Linked DNA regions of Homo sapiens: region 2 is linked to region 1. Evidence: fine-mapped expression QTL. A gene starts in region 1. The other region holds a variant in brackets. All regions are shown on one strand. Distances are between the middles of the regions.

Region 1 (5,383 bases):
CAACATCCCTCTTTGTAAATACCCCAACCCCTTATTAGAAACTATATTGAGGCCAGGTGCGGTGGATCACGCCTGTAATCCCAGCACTTTGGGAAGCTGAGGTGGGTGGATCACCTGAGGTCAGGAGTTTGAGAACAGCCTGGCCAACATGGTGAAACCCCGTCTCTACTAAAACTACAAAAATTAGCCGGGTGTAGTGGCACGTGCCTGTAATCCCAGCTAATCCCAGCTACTTGGGAGGCTGAGGCAGGAGAATCGCTTGAACCTGGGAGGCAGAGGTTGCAGTGAGCTGAGATCGCACTACTGCATTCCAGCCTGGGTGACACAGCAAGACACCATCTCAAAAAAAAAAAAAAAAAAAGAAAAAAAGAAACTATATTGAATCCTCATTCCATACCCCAAGTGCATGAAATGATGTGTTGTAACTGGTGGGTGGGTTTGGTCAGTCCAGGTTGGCTGATAGGTTTATTTATCAGAACAGACTTTAAGAGGTTGTCACTGAATTGCAAGAGATGCCTTTCAAGTAACTTGCATCTGGGTGCTTTGCACCTTTCATTTCCCTCTCCCTTCTCATTGCTTGTACATCTCCTTTCTGGCTTGCTTTCTCTCAGGCCCTTTTTCAGGATGCATATTGTGTCAAATATAAATTTGGAAAACCTAGCCAGAGAATACTTGACTTGAGGGAGACAACCCTAAGAACATTGACCTGCAGTGGGCACTCCGGTGGGGCTAGAGTGTTCACTAGCCTGCCCCAAGTGTGACTTCTGCTTGTGTGTATCACCCATTTCTTTATTCATTTAGTACATATTTTCCAAGCGATTTCTCTGTGCCTCAGACACTGTGTGAGGTCCTAGGGACACAATGGTGTGCAGAAGGGAAAACTGTTGTTGCCCTCACATGGGGGAGGTAGCAACAATTACAAATTTACAGGAATAAATATGTGATAATAATATCCTAGCTCAACATAGAAAGGAAGTTATCTCAGTATTTACCTAACAGTTTTGTAATGTGTGTGTGCGCGCGCGTATATGTCTTCTTCTTTTCTCTTTGTTAAGTGTGAGTGGAGAAGATGATGGCTAACACTGAGTTCTGTCATGGCCATGGCACTTTTATACCCACATTCTTTCTTTTAATCATGGAATTCTCCACCCCAGCCCTCACCCCGTGGATGTCGGAGTAAGACAACATTGTTATCACTCAGATTGTCATTGGGAGGGTGAATAAATGAATGCTTGCATTATGAGAGTTTGGGGGCAGAAATATGCCACAGACTCTTATCTGAAGCCATCAGATTTAGTGGCTGCGAACCCACCGAAGTCAGGGATTTACATTTTTTACAGCAACGAGAGAAAACTTCCCCTTTCCTCTGCAGAAGTCAGGACTGGATCTCAAAAATAGAAATGTGTCCTCCTAAATGTGTGCCCATCCCCGTGGTTGACAAACAACGGATTTCCCAAGATAGCTGCCACACACTTGGTTTCTAATCTCTGTATTGCTTCCCCGCCAGAATGTCGAAGTCCTTCCCGAATATGCCCAGTCATACTTTCTGAACTTTTGAGCAAACACCGTCCGGCTTCTTGTGCTTTCCTCAAAGACCCCAGGCACCGGCAGGGAGGACACAGGCCGGGGCAGAGCGCCCCTGCGCGGGGGATTCCTGCCACTCCGCGCCAGCCTGCGGCGCAAACGCTCTTCTCAGCCGCAGTCCCACCCGCTGCTGGCAATCTGAATGAGGAGCCGCGCTATTTTTACCTCCCCGGCTGCAATCCTTTATATTTACATGCAGGAAGCAAATATATAAGGGATTAAGAAGGAGATGCGTGGCCTTAGTTTATCCAGAGCAGGAAGAGGTTGGAATAGGAGAGGGTATGTGAAGTCTGGGGTGGTGGAAAAGGCAGGTGGACTTCGGCTGGTTGTTTTCTCCCGATCATCCCTGTCTCTGGCCTGGAAACCCCCGTACTCTCTTTCTTCTGGCTTATCCGTGACTGCCGGCTCCCCCTCCACCGCCCCCATCTTTTGAGGTACCACCCGTCACCTCCGATGCTGCTTGGGCTGCTGCATCACTCTGCTGCTTTACCCCCTTCCCCGCCCCCCAACAAAGCATGCGCAGTGCGTTCCGGGCCAGGCAACAGCAGCAGCACAGCATCCAGCAACAGCATCAGCACCCGAAGCCCCGCTCGGGCGCGCTCTCGGGGGGCGGGGCGCACGCCCGCTCCGCGCGTCCCCGCGCCGCTCGCTCCCGCGCGTCCCCGCGCCGCTCGCTCCCGCGCGCCGCCTCAGCATCCTCAGGCCCGGCGGCAGCCCCCGCAGTCGCTGAAGCGGCCGCGCCCGCCGGGGGAGGGAGTAGCCGCTGGGGAGGCTCCAAGTTGGCGGAGCGGCGAGGACCCCTGGACTCCTCTGCGTCCCGCCCCGGGAGTGGCTGCGAGGCTAGGCGAGCCGGGAAAGGGGGCGCCGCCCAGCCCCGAGCCCCGCGCCCCGTGCCCCGAGCCCGGAGCCCCCTGCCCGCCGCGGCACCATGCGCGCCGAGCCGGCGTGACCGGCTCCGCCCGCGGCCGCCCCGCAGCTAGCCCGGCGCTCTCGCCGGCCACACGGAGCGGCGCCCGGGAGCTATGAGCCATGAAGCCGCCCGGCAGCAGCTCGCGGCAGCCGCCCCTGGCGGGCTGCAGCCTTGCCGGCGCTTCCTGCGGCCCCCAACGCGGCCCCGCCGGCTCGGTGCCTGCCAGCGCCCCGGCCCGCACGCCGCCCTGCCGCCTGCTTCTCGTCCTTCTCCTGCTGCCTCCGCTCGCCGCCTCGTCCCGGCCCCGCGCCTGGGGGGCTGCTGCGCCCAGCGGTGGGTATGGCCCCGTGCCCTTTGCGTTGGCTTTCCCGCGGGGCCCTGCAGAGGAAAGCGAAGGGCGCGCGGGTCCGTGTGCTCCGGGCTTGTCCCCGGCTCGGCCTTTCCTTCCCTCCCTGCCTGTCTTTCCACCCTTCTCGTTCCCAAACCCCCATTCATCCCAGTTCACTTTTGGAAGTCCATTTCTGTTGCATTCGCGAAAAACCCATTCCAATTCTTGTTGGTTCCACTGGGAGGTGTTTAGTGGATCCTGGGTCCCTCAGCGATCTCTGTGCAACTTGCGGAGGGGCAACCAGTGGATGGGAAATACAGCGAGGGAGCAAGTTGCTACTTGCGTGGTGGAACCTTAATGTGAATGCGGGGAGGATGTAGTGATAATAGTGGTAATGGGCTGTTTCCTCAAATTTCGTATCCGGCGCATTCAGTGCGGTTGGAATTAAGGTGGGGGAGGCACACTTCGGGGACCAAAGAATTAAGGTGCTGAAGACATACTTCATGCACGACCTTTGGTTCTGATTTCTCAAAGTGCTTGTCATTATAATGAACAATTAATATAATACCATCTTCTATATATTGATGATTGGAAGTCACTGAAAGCAGAAAGCTGGCTTTGTCAGGAAAATAAAAAGAAATTGGGAAGCTGCCAGCATCTGTATCCCTACATGGCAAAGTATGTTTGCTCATCTTAAAGTTAAAAGAGAAGGGAATTGTCCATTTTGTTAAAAGAGTCGATTAATATTCGGTATCCATAAATTCAGTACTCAAGTTATCTTAGGAGCGTTCTTAGCTCTTGGATGGGATGCCACTAGGCAGAGTAGAGTTGTGCTTCTGTGGACTCAGAGAAGGGGTGGAGATCGGGGGCAGGACCCCTGAACATGTTCATTTAATGACTCTTCTTCCCTCAAGTTCATTCTACCCCCCCCCCAACACTTAGAAGTATAGATTTGAGTCTGACTAGAAATGTATATATAAGACATAAATCAAAATAAATAGTGCACAGTTGTATAAGCCTTATTGGCTATTTATTAACTTCTCCAGGCCATTTTATTGTTGAAATAACTTGCTTTACTCTAGCTCTACTTCTTAACTGCTTATAAATAGAAAACTTTGTGTTTGAAATTAAAGGAAAAATGCATTTTAGTGCTTATGTATTTATGGGGTAAATATGTGTGTGTTTGTGTATGTTTGTATTTTCTGCTCCCCCACCCCCCTACCTCCACCAGCTCCGCATTGGAATGAAACTGCAGAAAAAAATTTGGGAGTCCTGGCAGATGAAGACAATACATTGCAACAGAATAGCAGCAGTAATATCAGTTACAGCAATGCAATGCAGAAAGAAATCACACTGCCTTCAAGACTCATATATTACATCAACCAAGACTCGGAAAGCCCTTATCACGTTCTTGACACAAAGGCAAGACACCAGCAAAAACATAATAAGGTAGGCAGGAGGCTGGCTATGCAAAAGTAACTATCATGAAGAGTTTTCCTTTGATTTGATTTTCTGCCAGAATCTGAGTTCACAAATTTTACTGCAGCATTTTATTAAGAAAGCAATTAATATTATGATAGGGGAGAAACTGGAAGGAATTAACTTGGGATCTACTGGGATAAGACTGTTGTTTCTCTTCTCTGACTAAACTGGAACTAGAATTTTCTGATACCTGAAATGATATCCATGTATCTTTCAGGTACATTGGGCACTGAACAGTAGTTAAGTGAATGTGTTTATGATTCTAACTTGTTTCTGTGAGGCTTTATGTAAGGGTGCAGTATTCTGCCTTGATATAAAACTGTCTCCCATGATATAAAAACTGCTTTCAATCTGCACATGCAAGATTGCTTCAAGAAGCTATTTGGCTGCAGTGTCTCCATCAGTCTTTCCACTTAGAAATTGAGTGTTTAAACAGTCTGTTTCTTTAATTGATCAGTAGGAGGAAAAAAAAATTTTCTGTTGTATTTTCAATAGGTAAACAATTTGACATTTAAAAAGATTATGGTGACTAGACACAAATTATTTGCATAATATGAAGACCAATTTTGATTGGCATAATTCTTCAGTACCTACTCTGCATTGATTATGAGCAGTTGCTTTACTTTCAGGTTAGTTCAGAAAGTGGAACTGATATTTACCAAGGTATCAGTAGAAGACAAATGTTTAATATCCAAAGAGTTTAAGGGATCTTTTTCCCTGTGTTACTATTCTTTACTTGAATTAATATTATTTTGAACCCCGAGCAGATTTAAACAATGGATTATCGGTTCTTCTGTTGTTTATCGGGAGCAGAAAATAGAGTCTGTATGTTAAATGTTTCATTTTGATCTGTACTTGTTCAGGTGAGAACAACAGTTAGCAATTAACTGTCTAAACATCTAGAATTTAAGAAAGTATCTGCAGTTTACATCATTGTTTTTTATTAGTTTTCTAAAATATAGGTGAGTGGTAACAGTATTTATCCCCATTTTACAAATGGGGAGCTAGAAATTTAAGGCTTTTGGGTGATTTTCCTATGTTGTAAAGCAGCTAATATAAAATTCAGGTGACCTGAATGT
Region 2 (5,383 bases), 81 kb after region 1:
GCATTTCAGTGATGTGTAACTATGTGCAGAAGATAGGCCTTTTTTATTTGGATCCAGTTTTCCTTGTGTTTAATTTTTTTTTTTTTGGTTTTATGACATACGGGGGTAAAACTAGATTGTGAAAGTAACCATGATTCTGTCATAAAGGAATCTCAAAATTACTGGAAACTTGGAGAGACACTGGTAGCCACAACTAGAAATGTGTTATCCACTTCATATGGTCGAGCTTTAAGTTAAGGGGAAGAAACGAAACATCTTTCATCTTTTATTTAAAGATTTTTCTTCTGATACCACCCTCCTCAGAAGGGAACTCTCACTGGCTTTTAGGCTGATCAAGCCAGCTGAGTGAGGGTTCTCAGCTTTTATATCACCTCAAGTCTCCTAACTCTTTGTTTCTCCACTCTACAATTAGCTTGCAGGCCTGCCTATGTTTCCTGTCCTCATTATACTAGGGTTTTCTAAACTTTATTATGGCTAATGGGACCATTACCTGAGATGCAGGAGTACCTACACATTTACATTTCCACTGCAATCTCTCATATGGTTTAGGAGATCATTAAATTTCTCTTGTTACCCCCAAAGAAAAACCTCTATAACCTATTCATGCTAGGAACATTCTCTGCCTGCAGTTCTGTTCCTATGAAATGTGCCCACACTTACCAGCCCTTGCCGGGCATGCCATCTTTGTCTGACTTAACGCAAAGCCTCTATGCAACCTATAATTATTTTCACCCACTTAATATATCATTGCTACATGCTTAAATCCCAGCCTCTCCATGTCCTCGATCTTTTAACGTAGCTTAAAATTCTTACTGTATTGTTTACACTCAAAGGAGTGTATATTTTTTAGCTGAAACAACTTTTGGTATGAAAACTATTTTAGGTGGTATGAGTCTATTTTTTTTTTAAAACTTTAGAAAAGTAATGGTTGAAAAATTGTTATACTTTTAAAGTCTTCTGTTACAAAAAGAAAAGAAATATAAGAGCAAGCATAATTGTAGGATACAAGCTTATGTTTATATGAATGTATTGAGTTTAAATTTTGTGTCTGCATTACCACTTACAGTAATTATCTAGTGAATTTAAAATATCTTATGTGTATAAAAGGACAAAACAGAGAAGCTTCTAATGGAAAGAGGGAGCGGGCACGATGCTTCACTGTGGCTTCATGGAGCCTTGGGCATAACAATGTCACTACGCTCGAGGCTCCATGAAGTTGAGAGTCTCCGCAGTGACAGCATTGGTTGTCATTAAATGAATGAAATGTGTACCTGGAAGGAAGGGGTGGTAGGAGACTTCTTGGATGAATGTCAGCGCTCATTTAGGTGTGATTAGGGCTCCCAGTACTGAGAACTTAAGTACTTTCAAGCAGCAGATAATCAGATGACTGACTTTGCATGAGAAATATGGGCATTTGTGGTACTCCTTTTCTAGATATCATTTAATTTTTCTACTGTTTGTTTAACTTCTGTTCCAGTCCCAATTTGAACACATATGGAAGTAACTTACATGTTTTACTACTGAGAATTGAATTAGGGTATTTGTGCTACTGTTTACTTAGGAACAAAGATGTATGGCAAGGTGCATGGCTAGTCACCACCTGACAAGTTCAGTGTCTTGCAGTGAATGTGATCTCATAGCTTCCTGACTTCCACAACTTACACTGCTGACTCCTCTTGCCCAGATCCACCTACTGATGTTATGCACTGAGAGAGCCTAAGGCACCTACTCAAGGCTTTCCTAAAACAGTGGCTGTATTAGTCCATTTTCACTCTGCTAATAAAGACATTCCCAAGACTGGGTAATTTATAAAGAAAAAGAGGTTTAATGGACTCACAGTTCCACCTGGCTAGGGAGGCCCCACAATCATGGTGGAAGGTGAAGGGTATGTCTTACATGGTGGCAGACAAGAGAGAATGCGAGTCAAGTGAAAGGGGTTTCCCCTTATAAAACATCAGATCTCGTGAGACTTACTCACTACCATGAGAACAGTATCAGGGAAACTGCCTCCCATGAATCAGTGATCTCCCACTGGGTCCCTCCCACAACACGTGGGAATTATGGGAGCTACAATTCAAGATGAGATTTGGGTGAGGACACAGCCAAACTGTATCAGTGGCCATGTGAAGTATGATGACAGAACCCAAAAGCAACTGGAGGAGAGGACATACTCACAGACTGTTTGCTTACTAGAATCTCAGCTTTTGAGTATTTTCCACCTTGTAGACCAACCTGACCTTCCATGTAGAACTCGATGTGTATACCTTAAATTTGGCCTTTAGGTAGGGTGACCATATGCCCCAGTTTTCCCAGGATAGCCCTTCCTGGTTTATGTATGTCTGTTGTCCTGGCACAATTATTAATATGCCTCTTTTCATTTCCACAAATGCCCTAGTTTGGATGATAAATTATATGGCCATCCAGTTGTTAGGCCTTGGTGCTTGCTACTATTCATCTAGACTTTTTTTTACCTAGTTCTGCTGGTGAAGAAATGCTGTGTGGGCCTCTAGGTTCCTTCAGACAAGCTTGTTCTCAGCAACTCACTCAATTTCCTAGTTAGAAATAAACTGAGTGCTTAATACAAAATTTCAGAGAATACAGATTTTAAAACTAGAAAGGACT[TC/T]CAGAGACTGGTAGTTCAACCACTTTTTACAATGAAGTAAATGATTTTAAGTCATGTAGAAAAAATGATTTCCTTTGTGGTCCAATGTATATCTTTTCTAGTAGCCTTCCTCATAGCCCAAGGCCCAGTTAGCCACGTCGTCTTGTTCTGAACAATTGTTTTCTTTGATCAGCCTGCCCTTAAACTTTTCTGACCAGAATTACTCCAAAGAGAAGCATATTTTTGTTTGTTTGTTTGTTTGTTTTGTTTTATTCTGAGACAGAGTCTTGCTCTGTCGCTCAGGCTGGAATGCAGTGGTGTGATCTCGGCTCACTGCAACCTCTGCCTCACAGGTTCAAGCAATTCTCCTGCCTCAGCCTCCTGAGTAGCTGGGATTACAGACGCTCACCACCACACCTGGCTAATTTTTGTATTTTTAGTACAGATGGGGTTTCAGCATGTTGGCCAGGCTGGTCTCAAACTCCTGACCCTGTGATCCGCCTGCCTCAGTCTCCCAAAATGCTGAGATTATAGGCATGAGCCACCGCGTCTGGCTGGTTCTTTGTTTAAAGTAAGGGGTTCAAGTTATTTTCCAAAAAAACTGGATCTACTCTTCTTGGTTAATAGCTTTCCTAGATACTAGGGAATCTTGGTACCTAACTTTTCCAATTATTAGAATCCTTGGCTTCTCCATATGGAACTTCCTTGTAATGGAAGATATAAACTTTTGGGAGTTTTGACCACATGGCTGTTTATGTGTCTACTTACATTAGAAACATGAATCTCATATTCAAGGATTCCAACAAATACACACACACACACACACACACACACACACACACACACAGACACACACAGACACACGTCTATACACATACATATAAAACTTTCCTGAGGTAAATCTCTTTTTGTGAATTTCCAATTCCTAAATATAATAGCAGCTCTGCTTGTATAGTTGCTGATGATTGTGAAATTCTTTGAACATAGATTTCTAAAAGATATTTGTGATAAATCCTGAAATTAGGACAGTTTAGACAATGTTTCAGTGACAAACATGAAATCTGAGACTTCAGCACTGTAAAATGTTATCTCTTCCCCACACTGCGATATAGTGCAAGTTGAGTAGCTCTTTTAGACAGTTCTTCTCCAAATCATGATGAAAGGGTCTAGGCTGCATTCATATTTCTGTTATGCCATCTGGAGCATGTGGCTTCCAGGGTTGCCATGGAAGAGAGGGCTTAGATAATCCTGCAGGGATTTTAGTGGTCACACTAGAGGGGCAGACATCACTTCCTTCATGTCTCATTAGCCATGATCCATTGTCTTGGCCCTAACCTAACTGCAGCAGAACCTGCAAAATGTGGTCTTATCAGGATGCCAGGAAGGGGAAAATGAAATAGCATTTGGTGGACACACAGCATTATTTCTGCCACAGTTCCCTTCATTGACCTGATTCTTGGCTCATTTGTCATGTTTCAATAGTTTTATATTCTCCTGCTCTTACATGTTCTTCATATTTTGAGTAAAATCATATTTAGTCTCATTCTAGAGTTCCTAGAGTTTTCACCACTTTAGTGGTGCAGATTCACCATGAAGGGCAGAGTGAGTGGGTTCAAGAGTTTCCTTGTTCTAGTTCTTCCACTTTCTTTCACTGGCTTGAACTTCCATCCTACGTTTATTCATTTACTTATAAAGGTCACTCCTCTTTCAACAGATAACCTGCATGAGAAGCATGGGAGTAGCCAGAGAATACAGCTTTTCTGTAGCTTCAGTGATTGAAAAAAGATGTTTATTTTAGAATTTAGGATGTTCAGAGTTTGCCCACAAGTTGTTAGCATCTTCAGAACCAAACATCCAATTGGCTGATCAACAAAGTAAAATGCCAGTTTATATTTGGGTCCGCAATTGCTAAATAGATGAGTATTAGCATTTCAGAACATTCTGTTTCCAACAGGAAATTGTATTAGGACTACAGAAAGCAGAGGTGGAGGAAAGGACAACTCATCTTCAGGCATGTGGAGACATAGATTACCGGTTCCTTCCTGGCTGGGTGGGGCTGGAGACACCACTGCACAATCAACTATTCCCTTCTCCCTTTTTAGTGTTTCTTGTCCATCATCAAAAATTACATTTCACTATTATTTCAAGACTTTTATAATTAATTAGGTTACATTTCAGTTGATGTAATTCACTCTCAAGGAGATTACAAAATAATATTTTTGAGTGAGGTGATCAATCTTGCACATTTGTGCTGATTTTGCTTAGTTTCAATTTGAAAGTTGCATTTTTCACCCTGTTTCCAAGCCCCTATAGCAGGTGTTGGTAGATGTTTGCTCACTCAGCAGATATTGATTAAGGGCCTACTATGCATTAGGCATTATGCCAGGTGCTAGGGATACTGTGATGAGTGGAATAATTAGTTTCAAGGGAGGCTGGCTGTGGTCAGACAGAAGGAAAGAATGGAGTAAATGGGGATGTGTGCTATTTACAGGAAGTAGAAGAGTGGACTGGCATGGTGAGGAGGGGCATATGGTGGTGTATTTCTCTCAGTATTTGCCATAGACCTCCTGAAAAGTAGCTGTTTTTCTTCTTTAAGATTCTAAAATGCCAGAGATACTAGAAACAGGTATGTTCATGAGAAGAAGAGACCCTTAAAAAGAGGGAAATAGGATAATTAAAGTGACCTTTATGAGATTTGGGAATTCATGGTTAGAATGCCCTTGTAATTACAGGCAAAATTAAGATAACGTTGTTTCCAACTCTTAGATGTGCTCCAATGAT

The links. PIP is the estimated chance that this variant, and not a neighbour inherited with it, causes the effect.
Region 2: its variant is fine-mapped to the expression of ADAM23 in whole blood (TOPMed, PIP 0.91).

The regions. Positions count from the first base shown.
Region 1 is chr2:206,441,254-206,446,636 of GRCh38, forward strand. It overlaps ADAM23 (ADAM metallopeptidase domain 23), which reads left to right and starts at 2,279. Exons shown (of 26, transcript NM_003812.4): 1 at 2,279-2,827; 2 at 4,054-4,271. The coding sequence starts at 2,614. RefSeq lists a silencer at 2,724-2,853.
Region 2 is chr2:206,522,732-206,528,114 of GRCh38, forward strand. The region is part of intron 3 of ADAM23 (ADAM metallopeptidase domain 23); the gene reads left to right. Among named protein-coding and RNA genes, the nearest start is that of ADAM23, 82 kb to the left of the region's middle. The variant TC/T (reference allele first, on the strand shown) is at 2,623.